Linked DNA regions of Homo sapiens: regions 2 and 3 are each linked to region 1. Evidence: fine-mapped expression QTL. A gene starts in region 1. Each other region holds a variant in brackets. All regions are shown on one strand. Distances are between the middles of the regions. Region 1 holds the start of FOXN3 (forkhead box N3). Region 2 has its middle 25 kb from the start of FOXN3-AS1. Region 3 overlaps FOXN3 (forkhead box N3).

What was found. PIP is the estimated chance that this variant, and not a neighbour inherited with it, causes the effect. A credible set is the group of variants that fine-mapping cannot tell apart.
Region 2: its variant is the best candidate, but not a certain one, in a credible set for the expression of FOXN3 in whole blood (INTERVAL, PIP 0.89).
Region 3: its variant is the best candidate, but not a certain one, in a credible set for the expression of FOXN3 in whole blood (GTEx, PIP 0.71).

The regions. Positions count from the first base shown.
Region 1 is chr14:89,411,702-89,421,914 of GRCh38, forward strand. It overlaps FOXN3 (forkhead box N3), which reads right to left and starts at 5,532. Exons shown (of 6, transcript NM_005197.4): 1 at 5,170-5,532; 2 at 233-789. The coding sequence starts at 775. It overlaps FOXN3-AS1 (FOXN3 antisense RNA 1), which reads left to right and starts at 5,653. Exons shown (of 2, transcript NR_036500.1): 1 at 5,653-6,095; 2 at 7,459-8,092. RefSeq lists enhancers at 4,384-4,678, 4,693-5,226, 5,227-5,759, 5,384-5,678 and silencers at 5,374-5,583, 5,624-5,913.
Region 2 is chr14:89,437,643-89,447,855 of GRCh38, forward strand. It overlaps a transcript of FOXN3 not described here. Among named protein-coding and RNA genes, the nearest start is that of FOXN3-AS1, 25 kb to the left of the region's middle. RefSeq lists enhancers at 2,567-3,150, 3,403-3,697, 3,737-4,320 and a silencer at 3,403-3,697. The variant C/T (reference allele first, on the strand shown) is at 6,157.
Region 3 is chr14:89,338,488-89,348,700 of GRCh38, forward strand. All of the region lies in intron 3 of FOXN3 (forkhead box N3), which reads right to left. Among named protein-coding and RNA genes, the nearest start is that of FOXN3-AS3, 6.7 kb to the right of the region's middle. RefSeq lists enhancers at 866-1,135, 1,658-1,952, 1,854-2,355, 2,356-2,855. The variant T/C (reference allele first, on the strand shown) is at 6,251.

The sequences.
Region 1 (10,213 bases):
GGAAACCCTATCAGTGGGAAACTCTCAAATAGTACAAATGCTAATAAACAGTACATAACTAATAGGCTTAGGGAAAGGAAATTCTTTAAAATTATCTAAATGAATTAAATAGACTAAAACCCACTTACAACTGCTACTTCAATGTGGTGAATAGAAATTCATTTTTAATAGAGAAAAATTTTAAATTAAAAAAAAAAAAAGAAAACCTTGGGTTCCAGACACAGAGGCTTACCTGACTCCTCTCTTTGTCCACTTTCTTAAAACACTTATTCAATGATAAATTGTGTCTCACTGAGTTTTTCCACCCAGTAGGTGCATTTGCAAAATACGGAAAATGTTCCAAGATCCAGTTGTAGATATCCTTCACTGGCAGGCGCTTGGTTGGAGAGTCCTCGATGGCCATAAATATGAGGCAGCTGAAGGAGTAGGGGGGTTTGCAGTTGGGGTTCTGCCTGGCATCGTAGGGCATGTCAGAGTGGGCAGGGGATGGGGGGGTGTCATCGTCCAGGTCCTGGACGGGGCTGACACTCCTGAGGACCGACTCCCCAAAGCTCTTCAGCAAGTTCTTGCTCTCGTGCAGCCAGTTCAGGTTGGTCAGCTCTTCATCTTCCATGGCCCCCTCTTCTAATCGGATGTCAGGCAGAGAAAAGTCGAGGTCATCGTCTTCCTGAAGGGCCTTGGAGAAACCGCTGCCCCCGTAACACTGACTCAGTCCACTGGAGACACTAATTCCTGAGCTTTCTGGCTTCTTACTGGGAGGCATGACTGGACCCATTTACGTGAAGGCTCCTAGTAAAGACATCACAAAGAAATGATGAGCTGGCGAGGCCCAAAACAGAAAGGCAGACTGTACCCCTCTGATCCTGTTGCCTCCCTCTGCCGCCTCTATGGAACCCCTGCTACACAGGAACACCACCTTGTGACTCCCACACTAAGCAACACAATCCCACAATTCCACCACAGAGAGATAGGCTGATGAGAAAAATCAGCCCGCCATTCATATAGCAAGGTGACCTGATGCCCCTTAAATAAAATAAGACCAGTAACACCGGCCAGGCACGGTGGCTCACGCCTGTAATCCCAGCACTTTGGGAGGCTGAGGCGGGACGATTGCTTGAGACCAGGAGACCAGTTTTAAAGTACGTTAAATTTTACTGTGAATTATTTTTTCTTCCAGAACAGAAGAAAAGCAAGTAACTTCAGGTACCACACAGAATACATGGGAATGTAAGATAAGCCATTAACTGAAATTAGAGCTGGTGAAAAAAGTCAGGAGAGCAACTGCCAGTTTCAAGACAGCAAATTCAATTCAATTCAACAAAACATGCCATAGAATTCTATCCCTCCACCCCGACCCACCACCATCCCCATTTTTATCAATGACCTAGAACACGGAGTAAAATAACATCTGATGAGAAAAGAAAACGAGGAGGTGGTACGTTTACAAACAGAATGACCCCTACAGACACAAAGCATGTTCAACCCTCCAGCACCCAACGTAACACAGAAAGAACAGTAAAGATAACCAAAAAGGTCTCCCACTCTCCGTAGCGCTAAAACAATATGCTTGGTTTAAAACTGTTAGGTTTTAATTCCCCCCACAAACGAACAGTAAGAAAATCAAGCATCTACCTAGAAAACAAATGAACAGGCTGGGCATGGTGGCTCACGCCTATAATCTCACCACTTTGGGAGGCTGAGGCAGGAGGATCACTTGAGCCCAGGGGTTTGAGACCAGCCTGGGCAACATGGCGAAACCCCATCTCTATGAAAAATACAAAAATTAGCCGGGCATGGTGGCATGTGCCTGTAGTCCCAGCTACTTGGGAGGCTGAGTGGGAGGACTGCTTGAACCCAAGAAGCTGAGGCTGCAGTGAGCCATGACTGTACCACTGCACTCCAGCCTGAGCAACAGAGTGAGATGCTGTCTCAAAAGTTTTGAAGAAGGTAAGGAAGAAGGGAAGGGAATGGAAGAGAAGGGGGAAGGGAACGGAAGAGAAGGGGGAAGGGAACGGAAGAGAAGGGGGAAGGGAAGGGAGAAGGGAAGGGAAGGAAGAAGGGAAAGAAGAAGGAAAAAAAGAAGGGAAGGGAAAGAAGAAAGGAAGGGAAAGAGAAGGGAAAAGGAAGGGAAGGGAGGGGAGAGGAGAGGAGGGGAAGGGAGGGCAAGAGAAGGGAAGGGCAGGGAAGGGCAGGGCAGGGCAGGGCAAGGGGAGGAAGGAGGAAGAAGCGGGAGGGGGAGGAGAAGGGGGAGGAGGAGGAGGGATGGAGGAGGAGGAGGAGGAGGAGAAGAAGGAGGAGGGATGAATGAACATATTTAAAAGCAAAGACATAGGCCAGGCATGGTAGCTCATGCTTATAATCCCATCACTTTGGGAGTCTGAGGCAGGAGGATCCCTTGAGCTCAGAAGTTCAAGACCAGCCTGGCCAACATGGTAAAACGCCATCTCCACCAAAAAAATACAAAAATTCGCTAGGTGTGGTGGTGTGTGCCTGTAGTCCCAGCTACTTGGGAGGCTGAGGTGGGAGGATCACTTGAGCCCAGGAGGTTGAGGCTCACTGCACTCCAGCCTGGGCAACAGAGGGAGACCCTGTCTCAAAAAAATAAATAAATAAAATTAAAAAGGCAAAGACATGACCCTTCTATGTCTCTTAAATGTTCATTAACACCACATCTAAAACAACTGCCACTTCAGCTGTGGAAGCTCTATTAGGGAATTCTAGAAGGCATAATCCTGGGCACTAACCTACCAGCCAAGGGTGCCTGTGAATTATAGTACCTTCCCTCTTCCAAAAGGTAGAACCTGCTAGACGCAAGGCCTAAGGGGGAGCTGTGGTGAGAGGCCCAACCGGTTTTTTTTTTTTTTTTTTTTGAGACAGAGTCTCACTCTGTTGCCCAGGCTGGAGTGCAGTGGTGCAAAATCCGCTCACTGCAACCCCTGCCTCCCAGGTTCAAGAGATTCTCCTGCCTCAGCCTCCCAAGTAGCTGGGACTACAGGCGTGTGCCACCATGACTGGTTAATTTTTGTATTTTTAGTAAGACGGGGTTTCACCATGTTGGCCAGGATGGTCTCAATCTCTTGATCTCGTGATCCACCCGCCTCGGCCTCCCAAAGTGCTGGGATTACAGGCGTGAGCCACCGCGCCTGGCCAAGATGCCCAACTCTTAAGGAGAGAAAACTTCATGAGGCATTGCAGTACAGACCAGGCAGGATGCTCCAGACGTCTTGGGTTCACTCACAGGGAATATTTCTTTCTGTCAAATAAGGAGGTTACCCTGACACATTTCAGACAAAAAACAAGCTAGCATCTTTTGGCTTGGGGATACAACAGAGTCTGGTCTGATCCTGCTTTTAACTTCTTTATGAACGAATTATAGCACCACTTGTCTTTCTTAAAGTTTCCTCAGATCCCATCAGAAAATTTTCTGATGACCAGCATATGCCCACAGTAGAGTATAAAACAGAACTACCCAGCCACTGAAGTCAACTTTAGCTCTAAATGAAAGTTTTATGTCTCCTGAGCTTCCAAACAGGAAAATTATATCATGGCTGACAGTAAAGTAATTTAATTGCACTGTTGCTATGACAACATGCTGCTCTCTTTCTTTTTAATTTGCTTATTTGTCAGTAGCTTCCCAGAGGAACTAACACGCTATTCTCCATGTTTCCTTTTGTTTTAAACAAACACTGCCAGCAATATGGTTTTAGGAGAAAAAGTGGCATTGTCACGAAGAGAGGGTTATGGGAGTTCAGTACCCTTGGATCATGTGTGCGTTTTGTGCTGGGACCCCGTACTCTCCAACCACTCACTGCATCCCTATAAATCCCGCATTTTATACCAACAGGGTGAAGAGCTGCTGATCACTACAGTTCCATGTAAAAACAAAACAAAACAACAATAACCAAAAAAAAAAAAAAAAAAAAAAAAAAACAGTTCCCAGAAACCACAGCTGAGGAGTTTTCCATTATTATACTCTAACTACAGATTTCGCCAAATCTTTTTTTCCTCCTGTTTCAGAGGGAAAAAAAAAGAATCTGGATCATGTGAGTTGCAGTTAAGCAAACATTTTTAATCTGCTGCCAACAAGGCTGCTCCACCAGATACGCAAATAGTTATTCACTGGTGACCTCCTTACAACTTTTCTCTACACACACACACACACACACACACACACACACACACCCTCTTTTGTTTTTTTTATGACTTGCTGTGTTTTGTTACCCTCTTTATTTTTTAACGGAGAAAATGCGGCAAGAAAGCTTAGTTTCTCGCCTAGTAAACAGAAGGTCTCCAAATAACTGACAAAGACATTACTGGCCCAGCTCTGAACAGATGTTCGATGCGAACTTTAAAAAGTTAAGAAATCTTCCCAGAGCCGAGCAGTAGCGAGTTTGGGGGGCCGGGTCACCCCCGCCCACCCAGCACGCGCGCGCGCGCACGCACGCGCTTCACTCTCGTCTACTGTACTTGTCAAAAACATTTCAAGGGGACCTGCGGGAGTGGCGATTGGCTGCACCCCGCGTCAATCAGCGGCGTTGCCGGGCAACGGGGGAAACTGCTCTTATCCCCATATACAGGGCAATTGGGAGCTCGCATACCTTCACTGCCGGTCAGATGTCATAAACCTTTTATTGGCCGCACCGCGGCGAGCCTCGAAAACAAATCAATAAAAGCCCGCCGTCCCCCAACTTATCCAGGGCCCAAGGAGGGTTTCAAACAGGGCCGGGATGAGGGGGGTCGGGCCTCGGGGGTCTCCGGAGACGTTCGTTGCCTGTGCCAAGTCTGCACAGTTTGGCCGGGGGGTGATCTTTGTTAGGAGCCTGTTTCTCATCTTGGGGTCTCCACTTGATCGGAACCCCCTCCCCGGCCCGGAACGGCGGGGACCCCGTCCTCCGCAGACAATACCAACTCTGTTCCTTGCGGGCGTCTTTTCGGAAACCGAGGCACCGGGAAGCAGCACGCACGTCGGGGCAGGAAACTCTTCGGACCCGGCAACTTCCCGGCTCGGGGGCTCCCGGGGTCCACACCCGACCCTCCCCCCAGGACCTGCGGGGTCCCTCGTCTTCCCAGAGCGGCGAGGTAGTCTCCAGGACCGTCTCGGACGCGCCTCCCGCCCCGGGTGCCCCCCGAGCCCACGCGGGAGCCGGCAGGAGCGGGGTGCAAACTCACCTGGCCGGAGCGGGGCACGGGGGTGCGGGGGCGCCGCTGCCCTTCAGCAGGAGCCGACAAACTTTCGCGGGCGCCCGGCGGGCATCGCTCGGTGGCCCCGCTAAGGACGCGCGGGCGCGGCGCGGCGAGCCCGGGGCGGCGGGCGGCGGGGGGCGGCCGCGGGCGCGGGCGGCAGGGGCGCGGGGGTCGCGGCGCGGCATGGGACCTGCGGCGTCCGCCGGGCGCGCCGCGCGTCCTCCCGCCGGCCCCGCCGCTCTCCCCGCCCCGTCCCGCCTCCCGCTCGCCTCCGCCGCGGCGCGTCGGGCCGGGGCGCGCCGAGCGGCGAGAAATTGTTTCCACTGCAAACAAAAAAAGGCGACACATGACCAGGCAGGAGGAGGGGAAGCGCGGGGAGGGAGGAGGGCGGAGGGAGGGACAGAGCGGAGGGCGGAGGGAGCCGGAGAAAGGGAAAACGTGGGCCTGGCCGCCAGCGGCCTGGGGCGCGGGGCACTGACCCGCCGGGGCGGACCCTGCCCGCGCCCCTCGCGCGCCCCAGCACTCAGCCAGGGCGGAGGCCGGGGCTGGGCCGCGCGGCCTCGCCTCTTGGGCCCCGCGGGGCGGGGGTGACCGGCGCGGGTCCCGCGACCCAGGGCGGCCGCGACCGTGGGCGGTGGGGCAGGTGGGTCAGGCGGCGCGTGCCCTGTCCCCTCCCCGGGCTCCGGCCACACGAGCGGGCCGGCGCTGCGCTGCTGGCAACGTGTCGCGGGAACGCTCCTACCCCATCTGCATGCCTTACATGGCTCGAAAGTAAAAATAAAAAGAATTACGATGCGGGCGAGGCTTGTGGGGGTGAGAAGAGGAGATTCCACGTCTCCCCAGTGCTGCGTCCTGATAGGACCCCCAGGGCCTTCCGAGCCCTCTCCCAGCGACCACCTCGTGTCCCGGAGGTAAGCACCGCAGCGTCCCACCCAGGTGGCCGCGTGTCTCCCGAGGGAGGGCCGGTGGCCATTACAAGACAAGAGGCACCGTCCTAAAGGCCACGCCGGTGGGGCCTCTCAAGTGGGTTGTGCGGAACGCCCCGGCCGGCCTAGAGAGAAAACAGGTCTCATTTCCATCTCAGTTTGAGCTCTCAGGAACCAGACTGACAATTCGCAAGCCACCCAGCGAAATGGTGCAGCCACCACTCTAAGTCTCTAGGCACCTCCAAATAATAGCACCCACTGCTAAAGCCACACCAACCAGCCGCCTTGGGAGAGGATGAGAGGAGAGAGTCCAACAGGACACCCTGGTGGTGACAAAAATAAAAATGTGATTGCACATTACTCCCAGGTAGCCAAATTGGTTGGTTCCTCTACAGAGGAGAAGCCCAGGGCACCCTTCCTGCCACCCCCTCCTGAGCCAGTGGACAGGACATCGTGAGCGGTCTGAAAACTACAGAAAAAAACAGCGAGTAGACCTGGAGAAAGCTTTCTAGCATGCAGTACTTTTAAACCTAGCCAAAAGGAGGGACTAAGGGAAACACCAGTTAGGCTTCTGAAAATTTTTTCTGTCTCAAAAAATAGACCCCCCCCCCCCAATCTGAGAGTCATTCCCCCTAACAAAGGTTCAAGAGGGCAGGTGACAAGTCTTCAGCAAAGATGTGCCTTTCAGACTCACCGGAGACCTTACTACTTCCAAGTTGTGTGGCATCTCCCCATCTGGAGACAATTAGGAGGTGGAAGCCCAGGGGTAGCCTGAGGTCATCCAGCCCCACCCCTTTGATTACTGAGCACTTGATGCGACCTACCCAAAGTCACTAAGCAAAAGGCACAAGGTGGCAGAGACAAGTCAGATGATCTTTGAAGTCTCACGCCAGAGATTCTCAGGGTTAGAAGTGGTAACAAAGCCAGGATGAGACAATGTGTACCCTGCTTTCCTGTAGCTCCGGCTAATGCAGGTCCTGCCCCTCCATCAGCGCGTCAGTTGAGGGTGCTTATTCTCCGCCAGAGGAACCAAGGCCAGAGACCTTTGTCCAAGCCCTTGCTGGCCTAGAGAGGACGAAGTCGCCCCCTTACATCTTCCTCTTCCATCCCCAGCCCCCAACCCCACCCCCAAGTCCCCCAGCTACACTCACACAATAGCCAGAAATCTCTTTATATTAAGTAGAGGTGGCACCTTATTTTCACCGGCCCCAGTCCCCTCCTGCTTTCTCAGAGTTCAAAAAGAGGGGATGTGAGCCAAAGGTGATTGTACATGGAATATGTCATTCCATGTGTGTTTTTGCTTCTTGCATTCTCAAACATATTTCTTAATTTCTCTCTCCCATTACAGTTGCAGCAAGAGATGTGAGAAGGTGTCACCCTGAAGAGGAAGTGGTGGACCAGCCCTGCCTGATGTGGACAGCAGGGGACACATGTCTGCCTGTCGGTCTATCTGAAATGGGGGAAAAAATGCTGAAAGCCAAAGGAGGGCTTAATGTGGCCTTTTCCACCTTCTAATTCCATAGAACCTCAGCTCTGGGACTTGCTTCCTGACCTAGGGTGCAGGGGCCAAATTTGTTTGGGAACAACCCCATTCACAATTCCCCATGAACTTTCAGAAAGGACCCTTGCGTCTTAGGTCCTGAGAAGTCACAAATAAGCAAGCTGCATTGTCTAATGTCTTGTCTACACTGTTTTACAAACACATTTAACAGCCGAATTGTATATGTGCCCTAGAAATCACTTTGAGAAACACTTATTTCCTGATAGAGGACTTGATGGGACCATTCTGCAGCCCCATCTGAGCATGGGCTGGAGAGTACATAAGTATCTGGGAGCTGGAAGTCCTCAATTCCAGGCTTATCTGCCCCCATCAGCGTGGGACCTCAGTTCCTCCTCCAAGGAGAAGAGCGCCCCTCCCTTGATGTTTTGTGCATTCTTTTGCTAAATGTTTCTCTGGTCAAGAACTTTAATCCCCCTACACACACACTGTATTGGTTATTAGAGCAGCATGGCTATTTATGGAATAGTTAAGTATAAAACCCGATATACCTTGCCCCCCTTGAGGCAGTACAACTGAGTAGGTGAGCAGGTGCAGTCGGGAAGACCTGAGAGACTGCCCAAAATAGGAAGAGTCCGAGGCAGGCCTGGAAAGACAGTCTTCTGGGGAGGGATCCTGCAAAGAGACTCCAGTACAAAGGATATATGAGAGGAAATACGGGGAGGCTGGGCAGGCACACACCGCTGGCCTGCACAGAACCATATTCCTTTCGTGCTTCCCTCTATAGGTGACTCCACTCTCTACCCTGCAGGTTGGCTTCCTCTGCTCAATGATAACCACACAGGGCTGCCAGCAGCAAGCCCTGAGGCCTTCTGACTTTTAGCACCCACCACCTTTGAACTGCCTCAAGCCTTCCATGACATAGTTTAACTTCTCAGGGAAATAGTGCGATTGGCCTAGCCTGAGTCACATGACTCCCCTACGCGCATGGCCCCCCACCACTCCCTACTGCTAACAGCTGAGACAAGGGACATGGTGAAACATCTGGGGAAGGGAGGGGAGATGACTTTGGAAGTGGGATATCTAATAAGGGTGGGTTGCTGTTTAACCTGTGGAAATGGGGAAGGGGTGTTCTTGACCTGAGCTTCTCACCTGGGGATGCCCATCAGAACCATCCAGAAGCCACACCTAACCAACTAGAGTCTTCTAGGATGGTGCCTGGATATGTGTATTTTGAGAAAGCACAAGGGGATGATTTTGCTTACAAACTGCTGTTCCAAGAGAAATCGATGGCACAGAATTACCAAATCTGACTTGATTGTAGTAGAAGAGGAACTCATTCACTGAACAAATATTTGCTGAGTGCCTACCAAGTGCATGGCATTGTGTTAGCTGCCAGAGATAGACGGTCTTTGTCCCTAAAGAGCACACAGATTAGTGGGTAAGAGTGCAAGCATCATATCACCAAACTCCTTGAATAGCAGGGTGAGCAATTTATATGTGTTAAGGTCAGAGGGCAAAGGTGGCTCACTGAATATTTTTGAGCCCAGAAGTTGTATTATCAGAGATACGAATTAAAAAAAAAAAAAAAGATAAATGGGGATGGTGGATCCAAGATGAATTTCGGGAGAGGAAGAGAGAAACTGGAAGATCAAAAACCAGCAGAACAACTCAGAAATCATTGCAGTAATTCATACAAAACAGAATGAAGACTGTTTAAGAAAAAAAAAAATTGGGGAAAAAAGGCTAAAATAGTGGTTCCTTCTGAATGTTAGAGTTATGGGATACTTCTTTTTTGTGTGCTTCTTTCATACTTGTCCATATTTTCTTTCTTTCTTTTTTTTTTTTTTTTTTTTGAGACAAGAGTTTTGCTCTTGTTGCCCAGGCTGGAGTGCAATGGCACAATCTCGGCTCACTGCAACCTCCACCTCCCAGGTTCAAGTGATTCTCCTGCCCCAGCCTCCCGAGTAGCTGGGATTATAGGCATGCACCACCACACCTGGCTAATTTTGTATTTTTATAGAGACGGGGTTTCTCCATGTTGGTCAGGCTGGTCTTGAACTCCTGACCTCAGGTGATCCGCCTGCCTCAGCCTCCCAAAGTGCTGGGACTACAGGCATGAGCCACTGCACCAGGCCAAACATATTGCTGAGAATTCATGTGAAATCGTGCAATTGTCCGTGTGGGCAATTGGTTTATGGTGTTTCCACCCAGGGAAATTTTTTTTTTTTTTTGAGATGGAGTTTTGCTCTTGTTGGCCAGGCTGGAGTGCAGTGGCGCCATCTTGGCTCACTGCAGCCTCTGCCTCTGGGGTTCAAGCAATTCTCCTGCCTCAGCCTCCCGAGTAGGTGGGATTACAGGCATGCACCACCACGCACGGCTAATTTTTGTATTTTTTTAGTAGAGACGGGGTTTCTCCACGTTGGTCAGGCTGGTCTCGAGCTGCCAACCTCAGGTGATCTGCCCGCCTCAGCCTCCCAAAGTGCTGGGATTACAGGCGCGAGCCACCGTGCTGGGCCCCGCTATTTTTCAAATGGTCTACAATAAACACCCATTACATATATACATACATATATACATTAATTTATTTGACAGAGTCTGGCTC
Region 2 (10,213 bases), 26 kb after region 1:
TGATCTAAGAAGGGGAGGCATGAATAATCCACACCTTGTTTAGCATATCATCAAGAAATAACCATAAAAATAGGCAACCAGCAGCCATCAGGGCTGCTCTGTCTATGGAATAGCCATTCTTTTATTCCTTTGCTTTCCTAATAAAGCTGCTTTCACATTACTGTAGGAACCCAACCTGAATTCTTTCTTGTGCAAGATCCAAGGACCCTCTCTTGGGGGTCAGGACTAGAACCCTTTATCTGCAACAGTCATAATGGCTAAGTTTATTGAGTGGTTACTACATGACAGACAATGAGCTAGGGTTTTATCTGCTTTATGTCACAGAAGGCTCCCAACAATCAAGGTGAAGTTGGTTGATCAAAGTAGATGGTTAACAAATGATAATGAATGAACGACTGCTGTACAGATTTAACTAAGATTATATTTAGCATGCATAAGAACACATTCTTTAGTAATTCCAAAATTAGAAAATTAAAGTGTCAATAAAAATCATACAAATATAATTTAGTTAATGTTTATTGAGAACTGACTTACAAGAGGGCTGACCATGAAACACTGAAGCTGAAAGCTCAAGTCTCCTCACTCCCACTGGCCCCTTCTTGGGCCCTGGGATGGGTCCCAGCAATGTGCTGAATGAGCACCTTCAGTAAATAAGATGAGTCATTGTACAAGAACATTTAAATGCCATAAAATCTGACGCCTTATATATGAAAGAAACTTAAGGTTTTCCCAAATTTGAGAGTAGTCCTAAACGTTTACATGGTGTTACCAACAACTAGTTGTGAAGCTTACAAATTTTTTTCTTAGCTATCAATAGTGAAGAACAAATCCCAACCATTCAGGCTGGAGGAATAAGAAAATTGAAAATTATCTTCTATTCTCTCTAGAGATAATGGCATTCCAAAATCATTGTCATATGAAGAAATGATCAGAATATATAGCCTAAAATATGTAGGAAGAAAAATAATGTAACATATCAAACAGATAACAAGTAATCATATTTTATTTTTCTGCATTTTGTGATGTAAGGTTGTCAGTTTCTTAAACATATACTTCCTTGTGTTTTCTTTCATCATTTGAAATCTATACTCACTCTTATATCTGGTACTTTTACATTCTTTTCTTTCTTTTTTTTTTTGAGACGATGTTTCACTCTTGTTGCCCAGGCTAGAGTGCAATGGCGCAATCTCGGCCCACTGCAACCTCCGCCTCCCAGGTTCTAAGGATTCTCCTGCCTCAGCTTGAGTAGCTGGGATTACAGGCATGCACCACCACGCCCAGCTAATTTCGTATTTTTAGTAGGACAGAGTTTCTCCATGTTGGTCGGCTGGTTTCGAACTCCCAACCTCAGGTGGTCTGCCCACCTCGGCCTCCCAAAGTGCTGGGATTACAAGCGTGAGCCACCACGCCTGGCCTTACATTCTTTTCTTAAAGAGGTACCCACCCCTGCCAAATTGAATAGGCTTTCAGGCCACACAAAGCCTGCATCCAACCCTGTGTGTGCCTTCTATATGCTGGGCTCATAGCTTTACACAGACTAGCTCCTCTAGCTCTGCCAATAGCTCTTTGAGGTAGGTACTCTCAGAGGCACGTAATCCAGAGCAACTCCATCATGAATAGGAGCTGGGTAAAATGAGGCTGAGACATACTGAGCGGCATTCCCAGATAGTTAAGGCATTCTAAGTCTCAGGATGAAATGAGAGGTCAGCACAAGATGCAGGTCATAAAAACTCTGCTGATAAAACAGTTTGCATTAAAGAAGCCGGCCAAAACCTGCCAAAACCAAGATGGTGACGAGAGTGACCTCTGGTCGTCCTCACTGCTACACTCCCACCAGCACCATGACAATTTACAAATGCCATGGCAACATCAGGAAGTTACCCTATATGGTCTAAAAAGGGGAGAAATGAATAATCCACATCTTGTTTAGCATCTCATCAAGAAATAACCATAAAAATGAGCAATGAGCAGCACTCAGGGCTGCTCTGCCCATGGAGTAGCCATTCTTTTATTCCTTTTTTTTTTTTTTTTGAGACGGAGTCTTGCTCTGTTGCCCAGGCTAGAGTGCAGTGGTGTGATCTCTGCTCATTGCAAGCTCTGCCTCCCAGGTTCACGCCATTCTCCTGCCTCAGCCTCCAAAGTAGCTGGGATTACAGGCGCCCGCCACCACGCCCGGCTAATTTTTTGTATTTTAGTAGAGACGGGGTTTCACCGTGTTAGCCAGGATGGTCTCAATCTCCTGACGTCGTGATCCACCCGCCTCGGCCTCCCAAAGTGCTGGGATTACAGGCGTGACCCACCGCGTCCAGCCTCCTTTACTTTCTTAATAAACTTGCTTTCACTTTACTCTATGGACTCGCCTTGAATTATTTCTTGTGCCAGATCCAAGAACCCACTCTTGGAGTCTGGATTGGGACCCCTTTCCTGTAACGGTGCTATTATCCCCATATTACCTAGGGGGTACCTGGGCCTCAAGCAGGTTAAAATGACCTGCCATGGTTATCCAGCTAAGAGGCAGACTTGGCACTACTCCCACCAGTGCTGCTTCTTGGCCTGCCTACCCCTACTAAGGCAAGAAAAGGAAAAGACCACCCCTTCTCTGATCTAGGGGTGCTTTCCTGGCCTCTGGCTGCAGCAGCAGCCTCCTGGTAACCTTTATAGGCCTTGGGGATACCAGAATATCTCAAACGCATGGAGCAGAGAGACCCCTATTTCAGTACTGTCAGGCCTCTGAGCCCAAGCCAAGCCATCGCATCCCCTGTGACTTGCACGTATAGGCCCAGATGGCCTGAAGTAACTGAAGAATCACAAAAGAAGTGAATATGCCCTGCCCCACCTTAACTGATGACATTCCACCACAGAAGAAGTGTAAATGGCCGGTTCTTGCCTTAAGTGATGACATTACCTTGTGAAAGTCCTTTTCCTGGCTCAAAAAGCACCCCCACTGAGCACCTTGCGACCCCGACTCCTGCCCGCCAGAGAACAAACGCCCTTTGACTGTAATTTTCCTTTACCTACCCAAATCCTATAAAACGGCCCCACCCTTATCTCCCTTCGCTGACTCTTTTCGGACTCAGCCCACCTGCACCCAGGTGAAATAAACAGCCTTGTTGCTCACACAAAGCCTGTTTGGTGGTCTCTTCACACAGATGCCATGAAAAGTACACTGCAAAGCAGTGCGTTCAACCCCTGTCAACCTGTCAATGGGCAACAGTGGGACTCTGCAGTGGGTTAGTAATAGGCTCTTTTCTTTGATGTTATTTATGGTTTCAGGTGATGCTAACTAGGCTGTAGCAAGGCAGACATGATGGCAATGGTGGGTTCACGTGTCCAAGCCATGAAGAGGGGCTGGATGCTGACCTCTTTAGGAGAGAGGATGGGCACAGGTCTGAATGCACAAAAGGAACCCCTGAATTAAGTATGAGAAAGTGGCCGAGGCTCCGGCTTCCCTTCCTCCCCAACCCTGCCCTTCCCCAAAGTCTTATCTCTCAGCCTTCAGGCCAACTCCCCCAGAGGCCTTTGCACTGTCCCAACCTGCTGGGCCCTTTCCCTCCTCCCTGCCTCGATTCAGAATAACAACAACAACTGCATCTGCATAATGCTTTGTGACTGAAGAACTCCCCAACGACTCCATTCACTAACACCAGTCTCTCCTGGAAAACCCTCCTCCCAATTACCTGAACCCTATGTAACCCATCCTCCCTGCAGAGACCTGAACCTGCTAAATTTTTCATACCATTCACCTTACGTTAAAAAGGATGAAACTGAAAGGTGATTTGTGATTTACCTTCTTGGGGCAGTAATAAGCCGGGGCAAGAGGAACACAGGGAACCAACGGAACACATTGCCTTTATCTTATACTGTTAAAATAGCCTCGCTGATCATTACAGGCGCTCTTAATCACTTTTAGGGTCTAGGCTCTGCCCCAGACACCCTACTAGCTGGAACAGAAAGGGCATCATCCTTCCGCAGGGTTGGACCAAGGGCTACCAGATTGGGGTATGGATATGCAAAGTCCCCAAGAAAGAGACAGAAAGAGCTCAGGTCCAAACCTGCCAAGTGGAATGCATTAACATATCTATGAAATAAAGCGTCCTCTTGAAAGGAGGGAGGGGGGTGGAAGTAGGCAGGAAGTTGGGATCCTGGAGGGTCCCTATGGATTCCACACAGGTGACAGCTCTTCCAAGCCCCACCCAGCACACTGGCAGCATTAACCCTGGCCTTGAGGTTGGGATCTCAGCACCAATGCTGAGTTACACAGGGGGCTGAAACCGGCTGACTTTTTTTTTTTTTTTTTTTTTTGAGATGGAGTTTCCTCTTGTTGCCCGGGCTGGAGTGCAATGGCATGATCTCGGCTCACCGCAACCTCCGCCTCCCAGGTTCAAGCGATTTTCCTGCCTCAGCCTCCCAAGTAGCTGGGATTACAGGCATGCGCCACCACGCTTGGCTAATTTTGTATTTTTAGTAGAGATGGAGTTTCTCCATGTTGGTCAGGCTGGTCTCGAACTCCTGACCTCAGATGATCCATCCACCTCAGCCTCCCAAAGTGCTGGGATTACAGCCGTGAGCCACCGCGCCCGGGTGAAACTGGCTGACCTTTCCAATGACACTCAACATTCAAATCATCCAACCTTCCCTTCCCTTTTCCCACGCTCATCAAGCCACTTTCAGGCAGTAATAGTTGTCACTGTAAATTAATGCACAGGCTTTCTGATTTGCTACACCTGTGTCTGAACTTAGTTAACAGGTTCAATCTTGGGAAACAGGTCTGCTCTCTCGGCTGAAGACAGTGCATGGCAGTGAATGTCACATGCTGAGGTCTCCTATAACTGCACCCAGCGCTGCCACTGGCCAAAATGACTCCTATCTTCTGAGCAAGCTAAACAGGCACAGTCTGCCCAGCAGCTAGTAAGCCTTAGAAATCTTTGCCAAGTGAGAGACTGATGGATGTGCTCTGGGAAACAACGGATCCCTGAGTTGTATGCAGTGTGTCCCCAACATGTCTCCCTTGTGACCACAGCCCATGTCCATGGCCCACGGGATGACTGGCTGTCTACTGCTTGAAGATCTACAACTTCCCAGTTTTACCCCAACCAGCCAGTCTTCACTCCAACCAGCCAGTATTTACTCCAACCAGCCAGTCTTTCCCAGCCATGGATGTAATTTACACATTAGCCTACACCCAACTGGAGGGCCTGCTCAGTGTTCAAACCAAAATGGTGAATGGTCTTAGGTGCTTTCACACTACAGTGCCAGAATACTACAGTTGCAACAGAGACCATATAGCCTGCAAGCCTGAACTATTTATTCTCTGGCCCTTTACAGAAAAGGTTTGCCAACACCTGCTCTAAAGGAGAGAGGATAACAATAGCAGAAGGAAACTTGGGTTCAAGTGCTGTTTCTGCCAACGGCTCAGCAAATTGCAAATAAGCAAAATGGAGCCCAGCAAGTAAAATACTGGTGAGGTCATGCCAGTATTTTCATCTCTCTGCTTCCATTTCATTCATAAAACAGGACTAGTCATGAGTGGTAACTGCATGACAAATAATTAGCTAATACCACAGAATATGCATTTTAAACGTGCAACAGGGAAAACTGGCTATTTGTTTTCTGAAGGGAAAGAGGTCCTCCCTTGGTATAGCCATATTTTATGGCTGGCACAAAAAGTGTTCCTTTTTAGCCAGCTGTACTGTGCATATTGTTTTCATTGGTGTTTATGGAGCCCCTGGGACAGGCAGGGCACTGAGCTGGTTGTAGCCCTCCAGGACATGGGACTTCAGTTAAAGACAATATGTGATAAGGGAAACTGAGCTCATCACCACAGGCTGAGATATTCAAGGAATGTTTTGGTTTTTCAAAAAAGGAAAAATACAAATAGTGCCTGGGAGGAAGGGCAGAACTTCAGAGAAAGGAAAGGGGAGGGGAGAATATTCTACCGTGTTCTTTACTGGCAGGCACAGTAAAACAAAAGCTCAAAGTGAGGAAACCTAAGAGCAGATTCAGAGAACCAAGAAATGGACCAATTCATCTGAGTAGGAGTCCCTCATGGGACTGTCAGGAAAGATGGTTGCAAAGGTAAAGTTGGGGCCGGGCGCAGTGGCTCATGCCTGTAATCCCAGCACTTTGGGAGGCCAAGGTGGGCGGGTCACCTGAGGT[C/T]GGGAGTTCAAGACCAGCCTGACCAACATGGAGCAACTCTGTCTCTACTAAAAATACAAAATTAGCTAGGCATGGTGGTGCATGCCTGTAATCCCAGCTACTCAGGAGGCTGAGGCAGGAGAATTGCTTGAACCCAGGAGGTGGAGGTTGCAGTGAGCCAAGATCATGCCATTGCATTCCAGCCTGGGCAACAAGAATGAAACTCTGTCAAAAAAAAAAAAAAAAAAAAAAGCATACTTGGAAGCAGACTATGAAGAAATCCGAAATCTAAACCCATAAGTTTGTATTTTATCCTAGACAATGGGGAGCCATTAAATGTTCCAGAGAAGATGGGAGAGAGAGGTGGAGATGGCATTATGAAAGTGGTATTTTAGAAGATTAATCTGATCATACTATATAACATGAATCTGAAGAAACTGAAATATAGAGGAATTGAAATTGAAACACAGGAAATAGCTGTCATACTGGAACATTCTTTTGATGGGCGGGGGCGGTGGGGAAGAAACCAATTCTTTATTTTAACTTATATTTTCCTCTGTATCCCTAGTATCTCATATGTTTTACTATCTGTTAATCACTGCTAAATAAGCAAAATGGAGCCCAGCAAGTAAAATATTTCACATAAAAAAAAAAAGAAACAACATAGGTCAGGCCTTAGTGTAAGTTATCACTCTTTCAAGAGGTATAGGTTTATAAGGTGTAATAGTTGGCCTTTGATTTCTAATCACAAGTAGGAGAAACGGTTATTATAGTGAGCATGAAGGCGGCTGTATCTCTCTCTGTCAAAACCCAATTTTATCATTTACAACCCCACAGAAAAACAGCTAAAGTAGCTTTCTCTGTATCAGGTTTCATCAGAAATAAGATTTTGCCCTTCCTAAGTCTCTATATTCCGCAGCTTCCCGATGTTCTGTCACTTGATGGATTACAACACCCATCACACATTCCCTAGCTTTAGACATCTGTTTTTATGGCTGCAGTGGAACTTGCTTCTTAGTCTGGGAGGCAGTTCAGAGCAGAGATTTAAAATGTTGCTTCAAGGCCAGGTGCAGTGGCTCACGCCTATAGTCCCGGCACTTTGGGAGGCCGAGGCAGCAGTATCCGTTGAGCCCAGGAGTTCAAGACCAGCCTGGGCAACATAGCAAGACCCCATCTCTACAAAAAAAATACAAAAATTAGCTGGACATGGTAGCACATGCCTGTGATCCCAGCTACTCAGAAGGCTGAAATGGGAGATCGCTTGAGCCCAGGAGGTTGAGGCTGAAGTGGGCCATGATTGAGCCACTGCACTCCTGACTACCTAGGCGACAGAACAAGCAGAACAAGACCCAATCTCAAAAATAAAATAAAATAAAAAAAAGTTGCTTGCAAGCAGACTAGGGTTTGAATTCCAGCCTCTGCTACTCTAGTATCCTCGGGTATACCCGACTTCTGAACTTGAGTTCCCCATCTGTAAAATGGGGATGGTGACTACCTATTTCAAGCAGTGTCATGACCCTTAACTAGGAAAATGTCCCCAAAGTACAGTGTTGGGCACTTGTGTAAGGCTCAATCAATGGAGCTGCTGTCATTTTGTTTGCCTGGGGTGCAGTGAGATTTGGGTAAGCAAGTTAGGCCAGGTACACCAATCATGCCTTGTTTTTATTTGCTGGGCAAGAGGCACTTCCTTAATTTAATTATCATATGGCTAATACAGGAACTCTTTTTCATTTCCCCAGTTGAATACATCACCAGATTCCTGGAGGACCTGGGCCCTGGAGACCAAAAGTGCCCAGGGATTAGGGCTTCAGCAAGGCAGCCTGGCTGCTGTCCTGCCTCCTGGGGAAAACTCCAGGCCTTTTCACACTGCCGTAAAATCCCCCAGGGTCCTCAGAAGAGACCAGAGTTTGAGATCTCAAAACCTGGGCTGGAGGCCACAGAGGTCTCTCCCACACTGTGTGGAGGAAATTCAGCGTGGTCCTCTGACTCATTCAAAGTCTCACCACAAGTTTAAGGAAGATGGCTGAGCATGGTGGCTCACACCTATAACCCCAGCACTTTGGGAGGCCCAGGTGGTGGAATCCCTTGAGCCCAGGAGTTTGAGACCAGCCTGGGCAACATAATGAGACGCTATCACTACAGAAAACTTTAAAAATTAGCCAGGCATGGTGGGGGGTGGCGGGGGTGGAGGACATGCACCTGTAGTCCTAGCTACTTGGAAGGCTGAGGTGGGAGGATCACTTGAGCTTGCAGTGAGCTGTGATTATACCACCGCACTCTAGCCTGGGTAACAGAGCGAGACCCTGCCTCAAAAAAAAAAAAAAAAAAAAAAAATTTTAAGGAAGAGTTGGGTCTAGAACCCAGGTCTGATTCCTTCTTTTTCTCTCCTTCCTAAAAGTCTTTTTTTTTTTTTTTTTTCTTTTTTTTTTGAGACAGAGTCTCACTCTGTTCCCCATGCTGGAGTGCGAAGGCCCAATCTCGGCTCACTGCAACCTCCACCTCCTGGGTTCAAGCGATTCTCCTGCCTCAGCCTCCCGAGTAGCTGGGATTACAGGCATGCGCCACCACGCTCGGCTAATTTTTGTGTTTTTGGTAGAGACGGGGTTTCACCATGTTGGCCAGGCTGGTCTCAAACTCCTGACCTCAAGTGACCCGCCTGTCTTGGCCTCCCAAAATGCTGAGATTACAGGCATGAGCCACTGTACCTGTCCCTAAAAGTCACTTTTTTAAGAAATTACAAAAATCATAATGACCACTGTGGACAACTTAGAAAAGAGTTTTTCTATTTATTTAACAACAATGGAATCACACTGTAAATACACTTAGTACTCCACTTTTTTCTACTTCATATTGTATGAAATTTGTTTCTACAACAACAAAATTGTGAGCTCCATGTGGGCTGAGACCATATCTGCCTTGGTTGTCACTACACACTTTTCACACCTACCAGGTGCCTGGCACATAGTAGGCATTCAATAAACTGCAGAGTGAGTGAATGACCCATGGTTTGGCCACTTGCCACTTTTTGGATATTTAAGTTATTTGCAGTTTTCCACTATTATGAACAAGGCCAAATGAACAGCCAGATTCATTAATATATCTTGTACAGATCTCTATTTCCTTAAAATGAATTCCTGGGCCGGGCACGGTGGCTCATGCCTGTAATTCCAGCACTTTGGGAGGCCAAGGCGGGTGGATCACCTGAGGTCGGGAGTTCGAGACCAGCCTGACTAACATGGAGAAACCCCGTCTCTACTAAAAATACAAAATTAGCCGGGTGTGGTGGCATGCACCTGTAGTCCCAGCTACTGGGGAGGCTGAGGCAGAAGAATCGCTTGATCCCGGGAGGCAGAGGTTGCAGTGAGCCGAGATCGCGCCATTGCACTCCAGCCTGGACAACAAGAGCAAAACTCCGTCACAAAAAGGAAAAAAAAAAAAAACGAATTCCTAAAAGCAGAATTGCTGGGTCCAAGGGTATTCCCGTTGTAATGCCTTGGATACCTGATGCCAAATTGGTCTCTGTAAAGACAATCTTCATTTACTTCCTCCACCAGTCATACAGGAGAGTGAACGCCTAGTTTTCTCCACAGAGATGAGTATGTGAGTTAAGAAGGTGGGCGGCGGGAAGGAACTGTGAAATCCTTCAGCAGGTGTTTTAATGAAAAACTGAGGGCTAGACTCAAAGTTCACTCTGATATCCAGCAACCCCACATAGTATAAAGTGTCTTTCTGAACTTTCACCAGCCCTCCCTCTGACATCCTCTCTGTTGAAAAACACTGTGTGGCACCTAATATTGCCACGAGGAGAAGTACCAACTCCCAGCATCCAAATATATACTCTACTAGGAAACACACCCCATGCCTAGGAGACCGGCAGGCTCCCAAGGGCCGCACAAAAAAACCCAGTCTTTCCACATAAACAGTGACCCACACCAAATCTGGGTCTCTCTGCTACCAAGTCTGTTTTGCTTGACTTGTCTGTAAATATCTGCAGTTGAAAGTCATCATCCGCAGTGGTTTCCTGATGCCTTTCTTCCTTTTTTTTTTTTTTTTTTTTTTGAGACGGAGCTCACACTGT
Region 3 (10,213 bases), 73 kb before region 1:
TAAGGGCCAAACTGGTATGCAGCCGGCTGGGCGCGGTGGCTCACGCCTGTAATCCCAGCACTTTGGGAGGCCGAAGTGGGTAGATCATCTGAGGTCAGGAGTGCAAGACCAGCCTGGCCAACATGGTGAAACCTCGTCTCTACTAAAAATACAGAAATTAGTCAGGTGTGGTGATGGGTGCCTGTAATCCCAGCTACTCGGAGGCTGAGGGAGAAGAATCACTTGAACCTGGGGGTGGGCAGGGAGGCATGGAGGAGGCTGCAGTGAGCCAAGATCATACCACTTCACTCCAGCCTGGGTGAAAGGGCAAAACTCTGTCTCAAAGAAAAAAAATATTTGGTATGCAGCATTTGCAGAAACAAGACTGCACAATTATTAAAAGACAGTGGCAATGGTGAGGAAGGAGAAATCAAATTCAATGACTTTCCCTGGGCCAGGCACAAGGGCTAGGCATTTGGTACATCATTTTACTTAATTTAATCCCTAAAGCACTCGTTTAAGACAAGTATTCTTTTTGTTGGTTTGTTTTTGAGACAGAGTTTCACTCTTGTTACCCAGGCTGGAGTGCAACGGTGCGATCTCGGCTCACTGCAACCTCTGCCTCCTGGGTGAGTTGCTGGGATTACAGGTGCCTGCCACCATACCCAGCTAATTTTTGTTCTTTTTAGGAGAGACGAGGTTTTGCCACGTTGGCCAGGCTGGTCTCAAACCCCTGACCTCAGGTGATCTGCCCGCCTCGGCCTCCCAAAGTGCTGAGATTACAGGTGTGAGCCACCACGCCCAGCCTAAGACAAGTATTCTTATGCCACAATGAGTAACAAAACAGAGGCTCAGGGACCAGAGGCTTCAGGTAACATGTCCAAGGTCACACAGCTAGTGAGTGGCCCAGGGAGGCTCTAACCTGAGCCTCTTTCTAGACCTAACTAAGATCTGCTCTGAGCCTGCTGCGACATTGGCCAACCTGCAGGAGCTGGGAGGAAGCATGGAGACCCTCCAGTCCCCGTCTGCACCAGGGCAAGCGTGTGGTTCTCTCGGATCCTGCTCCTTCCAATGCTGGGGAGGCAGAAGGACCTCTCTGGGGCACTAAAGCTCATGGGAGACAGGCCCAGGACAGAGTTTCTGACTCCTGCTCTACTGCGGGCAGGATCGGGCAGGCGGGGAAGCCAGAGTCACGCTTTGAGAGCTTCAGACTGTGGGATCTTTTTCATTTCTCTGCTTCCTCACTGTTTCCTCGGACTGGCCTCCTCCTCCTGAGGGTGACAGAGCCGCTGTGCCCATCTGCAGCACCAATTCGGGGCCACTCCCCTGCAAATGCAGGTGAAGCTAAGCCTGGGCTGGAGGCCTGGGGGCTGGTGAATGCACCAAAGCCAGGCCAGAACCCCCACCTCCCACGCGGGACTCTGCTGGGAAGCTTGAAATGCAGGGAAATCTCTTGATGTGTTTCTCATCAGTAGAAAAGAATAGGAGGGTTTGGGGGTGGGGGGCAATTTCCAGTTCAGAAGAATCCTAAGATAAGAAACTCTGCTCTCCTTACAGTTAAAACAAACAAACAAAAAGCTTTCATTCAGAAGACCCACAGCTGCAAAGAGAAAGAGAGAGGAAAGAGAAGAAGGAAGGGGGGTGCAGGGGAAGGAGGTAAAAAAAGCTACTAAAATTTGGTAATGTTTTTTCCCCTCTGAATGTGTTTTTCCCATTCATTTTTCTTCTGCCCAAACTGGTTGGGGCGTGTGTTCTGAGGGAAGGGGGAAACTGATGTGTGTTAGAGAGACATATGTTGGAATAAGCAGCTCATAAACAGACTTTGACCAAAACTTTCCATTTAAAAGTAAACACACAGGAAACATGTCTCAACTTGGACTATGGTGATTAAGCAACTCAATTTGAGAAGATAAGGATTTTTTTTAATGTGTCTCAATGGTTTATGGAGGTTTTCTCCAGATGATTTAAAAATCAGCAAAAGTTAGGAATTAATGTGGAATCTCTGATGCTTCCCACGCTCTTTCCGTACCTCTCACATCCATGGCAGAGTCTCAGAGATGCTTTGACAAATAATGCAACACGAACCTTATGTAAGAAAAACAAAAGGTTATGAATGTGATCAGAGACTCTGGCCAAGAACATGTGCTTCCACAAAACAAGGACACCAGTTTGGCTCTTCCATGGAGATTTATGCAAAGGGTGGGTGTTATTCTCATCAATTCAGTGGATAAACAATAGGGGGGAGGTTGGGATGATTTGATGGACAGCTTTTGGAAATGATCTTCTGCTTGGCAAAACACTGCCGTGATCATTTTATTCACACGGAAGGAAATGCAAAGAAGTGTCACTAAAACAAGGGAGGTAATTGTAGGGCATGAATCAAAAAGCTGGATGACACAGAACGAAGAGTAACTGAATTAGTCCCATCACGGTCTTGAAATCTGCACTTAATTTCAAGAGAAGAGCCTGACCTCTCATTGCTGGCTAACAAAGCTATGCATCTATTCCCTCAAGTTTCATTTCCACCTTATAAACTACAAACACCATGTTGCAGAGGGATATGCCTCGACTGTCATGGCAGCCCAAGAAACTCAGAAACAACATCTCAAGAGCTGGAAGCGATAACCCTGCAGTTCTCCAGTAAGAGTTAAATCTTGGGACGACCCTGGCAGCTGGTTGTCTAGCCTCGACTGGCATCCCTGGGGGTAGCTCATTCTACCTTCATCCCCTTCATCTGTCCACCCACCCAACAACTCTAGCATTTACCCAGCTTCTGTTATGTGCCTGGCACACTGTCAGATGCTGTTCTGTCTTGACCCCAAATCCTTCTTTCTATAACTTCGATCCATCAAGTCCAAATCTGTCCTCTCTGATGGTGAGGATGGCTGGCATGCTAACCTTCTGAAGGTGCTCTTCCCGGGTTACACATTCCCTGTTCTTCAACAGTAACACATGGATGCCCCTGCCAACCTGATCGCTTTCCTTATCAATCCCCCATTCTATGTTCTTCAAATCTTTTATGAATGATGGGTTCCACTTCCCATCTAATTATACTGCACCTCTACTTCTTAATCTCCCTCCTTTGTTAATCTAGAAAATTTGCAAGTATTTAGTGTGACCAGAACTTGGAGAAGACAAAATGCTGAGATCAAAAATATTCTATGAGACCATCTTAGATGTGCTAACAGGTTTTTATTTTCTATTATTGATGAAAAATGTGCTATTTTTAAGCTTCTACAAGACAAAGTGCCGCCTGTTGTTTCACGTTGTACACGGTTGATTTCATGCACTTTTGACAGTTTTCCTATTTCTAACATGAGGATCAATTTCTCCTCCTCTGGGAAGGCGAGGGGTTTGACAAATATGCAGAATGCAGGTGAGCCCCACTTTGCAGACACTTCCCCCTCTAACGATGCCTAAGGCGTCGCTGTGCTCAGGAATCCTTGGCTGGCTATCCCGAGAAGTAAATACTCACCAAGCAAATCTGCAAAGACTCCAGGCACCTACTAGGCCCATCAACACTGCAACTTTCTTCTCATGAGGTATTGGAAACACAGAGTTTCTTTGGTATCCATCATCTCAGGAGTTAGGTCAATGGAAATTTATCTGTAGTAGACTTAAAGAACTTCTAACGCTTTGGCTATTAAAATACAAACCAGGGACTGAGGGCACCCCAGGAGGTCAGAAGATAAAAAGGTAACTCGGAGTGGTTCTCTCAGTCACGAGTTTGACTCAGTACCTGAGTAAAATAGATATAATCAGCCCAGCTACTTAAACATTCAACTTTCAAAGTGAGTGTGAAAACAGAATGAAATTGGATGACTGGGCATAATATTCATGAGCTACCCCTGATACAAAGTGCTCAAAGATAACAGGGACTGTTTTCCATTTAAATAAAACAACACAGGATTGACTCAGAATTAAACGTATAATGAACAGCATACCGAAGGCAAAATGCTGAGAACAAAATTATTCTATGAGACCAACTCAGGAAATATAATGGAAGTCAAAAGACAACATGATTTGATATGAAAATAAAATTATAGCCAACTAATGGATTTTTAAAGCTCCCACTGTCAATGAGCACTGTGTTTTTTAAAGAGTGTGCCCTTACAATTTAAGCCTTTCCTATTCTTCATCCCCTCCAATTTTTTAACAAAATATAATGTATATTTGGAAGTGCTACCACTTTGAAAGCCCCGGTATTCAATCCCACATCTACTTTACTGCATTAATTTACCACACTCTCCTACCTGTTTAGCACCATGAAGCTTCATATTGATTTTTTTAAATTTAATATTCTTTCAAAAATTACTCCCAGCAAAAAGTGCTGTTTAAACATAATCTTTCAAAATGCATAATGCCTCACGCTTTTAAATTAAACTTATCCAAATAAGTGTATTGAATATGAGGGGCATTTAAAAAACTATTTCGGGTTTCCATCAAATATGTTGCTTTCAAGTAAATATATTTGTAATAATGAAGCAACTAATCGAAATCCTTGCAATCTTTCTTTATGCTTGACTGAATTAACACTTGCAATGACACCACAATCTAACAATTAAAGTCCTTCAATGTAAGTTAAAACTGATTTCATTGTGGCTTTGCAGTGCTTCTGCCAACTATTAAACGCACAACACTCTGAATAACTAGAATGAAAGATGTCTTATAAATTAAAAAATTATTGGATCCTATCCAAGCAATGAATAAGCTATTCCTTGCTGTGTGCAAATTCAGCATTCTGAGTGGAGGAATTAACACCGTTATGTTAACAAGATTAACATTTTAAGGATTTTCTAATCTTCTAATTGTCTAAAAGGATGAGTTCCCTAAACACCTCAGTACCTTCCCCACCTCCTCCCAATGCAATTCCCCTATCTACTATTCCCAGCCTCACTATGACAGCCAAAGATTATTTACCTGGTGAACAATGACTGATAACTTTGTTAATTTGAATATACAGTGACCACTCTGTACAATTTCTATACCCTTAGCAGTATTACTCTATGAAGACATTTAAATTAAAAAAAAAAAAGGACATCAATAGGGCAGCAGGCAGGATAATAGAACTTGCTGAGTCAGCACTAAAATCTGCCATTTTCATTAAGAACCTCAATATCAGAAAGGCCAAAATCTTTGGAGAGGCCATTAATGTGTGTGGTTTTTTTTTTTTTTCTTTTTTGCGGCTCGTTAAATTCCTCTGAGGAAGCAAACAGAAACAGCTAAAAGGAGAAGCTTAAATGTCTGGAATTTATTCCAAAAAAAAAAAAAAGATGAGAGTAAAAGAAACTTTATTTTGGTTGGTTTGTTTGTTTTGAGACAGTCTCACTCTGTTGCCCAGGGTGGAGTGCAATGGTGCAATCTCGGCTCACTGCAACCTCCACCTCCCAGGTTCAAGCAATTCTCCTGCCTTAGCCTCCCGAGTAGCTGATTGCAGGTGCCTGCCACCACACCCAGCTAATTTTTGTATTTTTTGGTAGAGATGGGGTTTCACCACGTTGGCCAGGCTGGTCTTGAACTCCTGACCTCAAGTGATCCACCCACCTTGGCCTCCCAAAGTGCTGGGATTACAGGCGTGAGCCACCGCATCGAGCCGAGAAACTTTCTTGAAATGTTCTAACTCTGCAAATTTTATAGTCATCCAAAAAATAAATCTTTAGACCTAGATCAGCAAATGAGTCTTGTGGATTTTTCTAACTTTGTACATGTTAAGCCACAATACTTTACATGAAATATAGACTATGATGTCATTATTTTTACATTGAAAATTTTAAAGCAAAAAAAGGGAAAGCTCATTAAAGAAAAAAAAAAAAAAACCATCTCACTCAGTTTCTGACCATCTAACACCCAATCATGGTCAATCCATCATGGAGGCCAAAGGTACGTAGGATGCTGGGATTTCTTTGGAATTACCAAGGAAACACAAAACAACGCTGGCTCTGAAAACCAATCATCCAGGAAACTCTCCATAAACCATACTGTTTGATTAAATGCAAAACCTGTTCTCCAACCATGGTGAGAGAGGATTAAAATGTTTTTCTGGAAACTGACTTTGGATTGGTGCCTATAGCAGAGAAGGTATTACATAAGACCCATATATATGTCACTCTCTAAAAACAATCTGTTGTCATAAACATTATTATGGGGAGAGCTGCTGTTTATAGGGTGTTAATGTAGTGTTACGAAGTTTAAATACCCCCACTATAAGTACCAAAATCACAAAGTCAAGGTCACCCATTGAGGAACTGTCTTTTCATTTAACTGTCAGACA[T/C]TGAGAAAGGTTAGAAAAATAGAAATTTCCTAAAAAGTTGGTGGGAATGTGGACTAGAACCGAGTGTAAAATCAGAAGGCAATTTGGCAATGTCTACTGGAAACATTAAAATACGCATATTCTTTAATGAGAAATGACGTATCTAGGAAGGAGGGGCACAGGCAACATAAAGATTAGAACAGCTCAGTGGACTTTTCCGAAGAGGTACGGGCAAGCAACCCAAACACACCACCCCTCCTTCCACTTTCCAGATCTAGATTCCGAAGGCCCCACGCCAGAGTCTCCTTGGCAAAGGTGTAGATTCCCCAAGCAAGCTGGCGTGGCTCGGTGTGCATGAGTAGCCCGAGCTCAGCCACGGGTACTCTACAAAGCACAGTGGAGTGCCATTTCACAAAACTAACGTTCCAAGAACTGTAGTATCCAAACTACAAAGAGACCCCTCGTGTGGCTCAGCAGATCTTCCAGAGAATGAGGCAAAAGCAAGAGCCCTTCACAATCAGCTCTTCACTAAAGTAGGTCAGGCAACTCTCAGTGCTGCAGTGATTTTACTTTTCATTCTACCAAAAACAATCGGGATATCTAAAATTGATCAATGAGTCTGCATTTTGGAGACTGCTTTAAAAAAAAAAAAAAGGAAAGAGAAGTTACAAAGATAGCACAGAAAGCTCCTGCATACCCCTCACTTAGTTTTCCCTGATGTTAACACCATATATTACTAATAAGGCACTTGTCACAACACTGGTATACTACTATTTTTTTATTTCAATAGTTTTTGGGGTACAGATGGTTTTGGGTTACATGGATAAATTCTTTAGTGGTGATTTCGGAGATTTTAGTGCACTTGTCACCCCATAGATAGTCTTTTATCCTTAATCCCCCTCCCAACCTTCCCCCTACTCCCCTCCGAGTCCCCAAAGTCCATTATATCATTCTCATGCCTTTCCTTCCTCACAGTTTAGCACCCACTTATAAGTGAGAACATACGTTTTCCATTGGTTTTCCATTCCTGAGTTACTTCACTTAGAATAACGGCCTCCAGGCCGGGCACAGTGGCTCACGCCTGTAATCCCACTTAGGGAGACCGAGGTGGTGGATCACAAGGTCAGGAGTTCAAGACCAGCCTGGCCAAGATGGTGAAACCCCGTCTCTACTAAAAACCACAAAAATTAGCAGGGCTTCATGGTAGGTGCCTGTAATCCCAGCTACTCGGGAGGCTGAAGCAGGAGAATCACTTGAACCTGAGCGGCAGAGATCGCAGTGAGCCGAGATCGCGGCACTGCACTCCAGCCTGGCGACAGAGTGAGACCCTGTCTCAAAAAATAAAAGAAAAGAATAATGGCCTCCAGCTGCATTTAAATTGCTGCAAAAGACATTATTTTGTTCCTTTTTATGGCTGAGTAGTATTCCATGGTGTATATATACCACATTTTCCTTATCTACTCATAGGTTGATGGGCATTTAGGTTGGTTCCATATCTTTGCAGCAGCAAATTGTGCTGCTATAAACATGCAGCATACTACTATTACTATTAACTAAACTGCACAGTTAATTCATATTTTGCACATTTTCCCCTAATGTCCTTTTTCTGTTCCAGGATCCCATCCAGGACATCATAGGACACATTTGCTCATCATGTCTTCTTAGTCTCCTCTGGTCTGTAATAGATTCTAAGACTTTCCCTGTTTCTGATGACCTTGGGGCTTTGAGGAGTGAGGATCAAGTTATTTTTGTAGAATGTCCCTGCTGAAGGACAAAATCATTGTTTGATGTTTTTCCCATGACTAGACAGGGGTTATGAGTTTGGGGAGAAAGACCACAAAGCTGAAGTGCCAAATTTATGATGTCCTACGAGAGGTACCCGGTATCAACATCACATCACTGAGGATGGTACTTTCATCACCTGTGGCATACTGTTCACCAGGTTTGTCCACTCCAAACTCCCTTTTCCAACCTTTTCCATGCTCTCATCTTTAGAAGTAGGTCATTAAGTGCAGCCATTCCAGGAGTGGAGAGTTCCGTCCCACCTCTTTCAGTGGAGAAAGAGCTACATCAAGCATTTGGAACCCTCTGAATGGGAATTGTGTCTCTTCTCTCATTTATTTGTTTGTTTATTTATTCAATCATTTATTTCTATCAGTCTGGACTCATAGGTATTTATTTTATATTTCCAGTTATAATCCAACACTATGTTATTTATTTTGCTGCTCATCACCGTCCCAGCTTTGGCTACTAGGAGCAACTTCAGGCGAATCCCTTTGACACCCCTGCCCCCCACCCCACCATTTTGTTCTTTAAATATTTCCTTACTTTCTGCTTCTCCATATATTCATCAGCAAAATGTCTCCCTTAAGAAAAGGGTTGCTATGGGGTGATTTATGCCTCCCCAAAATTCCTACATTGAAGATCTAGCCCCCAGTACATCTGAACATGACCTTATTTGGGAACAGGGCCATTGAAAATGTAATTAGTTAAATAGGATGAATTATTACGGGAGAAAGATGGGCCTCTAAGCCAATACGACCAGTGTGTCCTTACAAGAAGGGAAAATTTGGACATAGACACCACATGGAGAAAACGAATGCCAAGTGAAGGTGAAGGCAGAAATCAGAGTGATGTTTCGACAGGCCAAGGAAGGCCAAAAGCATTCCAGCAAAATGCCAGTAAACCACCAGAAGCTAGGAGAGAGGGGTGGAACAGACCCTCCCTCACAGCCCACAGAAGGAACCAACCCTGCCGACACATTGGTCTCGGACTTCCAGCCTCCAGAACCTTGAGACAGTAAGTTTCTGTTGTTTAAGTCACTTGGTTTGAAGTACTCCACGCTGAGCTCTGCACTTCGATTAAAAACAATTCACAAATTTGGTATCAACAAAGCAGGTGTGGAAGAACATCCTAACATACATTCAAAAGGGCACTTTAGAAAACAGAGGCATGGGCCGGGCGCGGTGGCTCACGCCTGTAATCCCAGCACTTTGGGAGGCCGAGGCGGGCGGATCATGAGTTCAAGAGATTGAGACCAGCCTGGCCAACAAGGTAAAACCCCATCTCTACGAAAAATACAAAAATTAGCTGGGTGTGGTGGCGCCTGCCTGTAGTCCCAGCTACTCTCAGGCGGCTGAGGCAGAAGAATCCCTTGAACCCAGGAGGCGGAGGTTGCAGTGAGCCAAGATTGCACCGCTGCACTCCAGCCTGGAGAGAGAGCAAGACTCCGTCTCAAAAAAAAGCAAAAAAGGAAAACAGAGGCACGGGTCTACACATCTCAATATTTAGCATGGTATTTGGATGTGAGCAAGGTCTGGGCAGTGCTCTCAAATGTCTCGCTTTTCCCGCAGCATTTCCAGCCACCTGCAGCTCAGTTCAGAGTGACATTTGCCAAGCACACCTGCAAGTCCTAGCAATAACCGCCCATCTAGTATAATCACCATCTTCTTCAGGATGCTAAGTACCAGCCCCATGAAAGCCAAGCACTTCCCAGGTACCCCTCACAGCGATCCAGCAAGGGGCTGACGGGTGATTCCCCGCATCACAGTGGACCCAGCCAGATCACGTCAATTCGGCATTTTGGGGTCCCTGTTTAATGACTCGGTGTTTCACTTCCATCTTCTCTAGGTCATGTCAACAAGTGGCCTGATGGCTTAGAATTGAACCAAATGCCACATCACTGTTAAGACACAGAAATATTGTACAATTACCCAGTGTTCAGTGGCTTCAGTGCAATTTCACACACTAGAGGATCCTGAAGCAAACTCTCAGCTTTCAGATGAAGGGATGACAGTCCCCAGGAAAGAGAAAGTGACTTGTTCTCATGGACTTAAGGCATGGAAGAGGCAGACTAGAATCTCATCTGTCATCTCCCTCCACCGCCAGTGACCTCTGTGGAGGTGAAATCTAAGCACCGCATGGGCAGAAGCAGAAACTGGTTTTTTTTCCCCCCTCAGTCAACTGGGGATAAAGGCTGGAGGT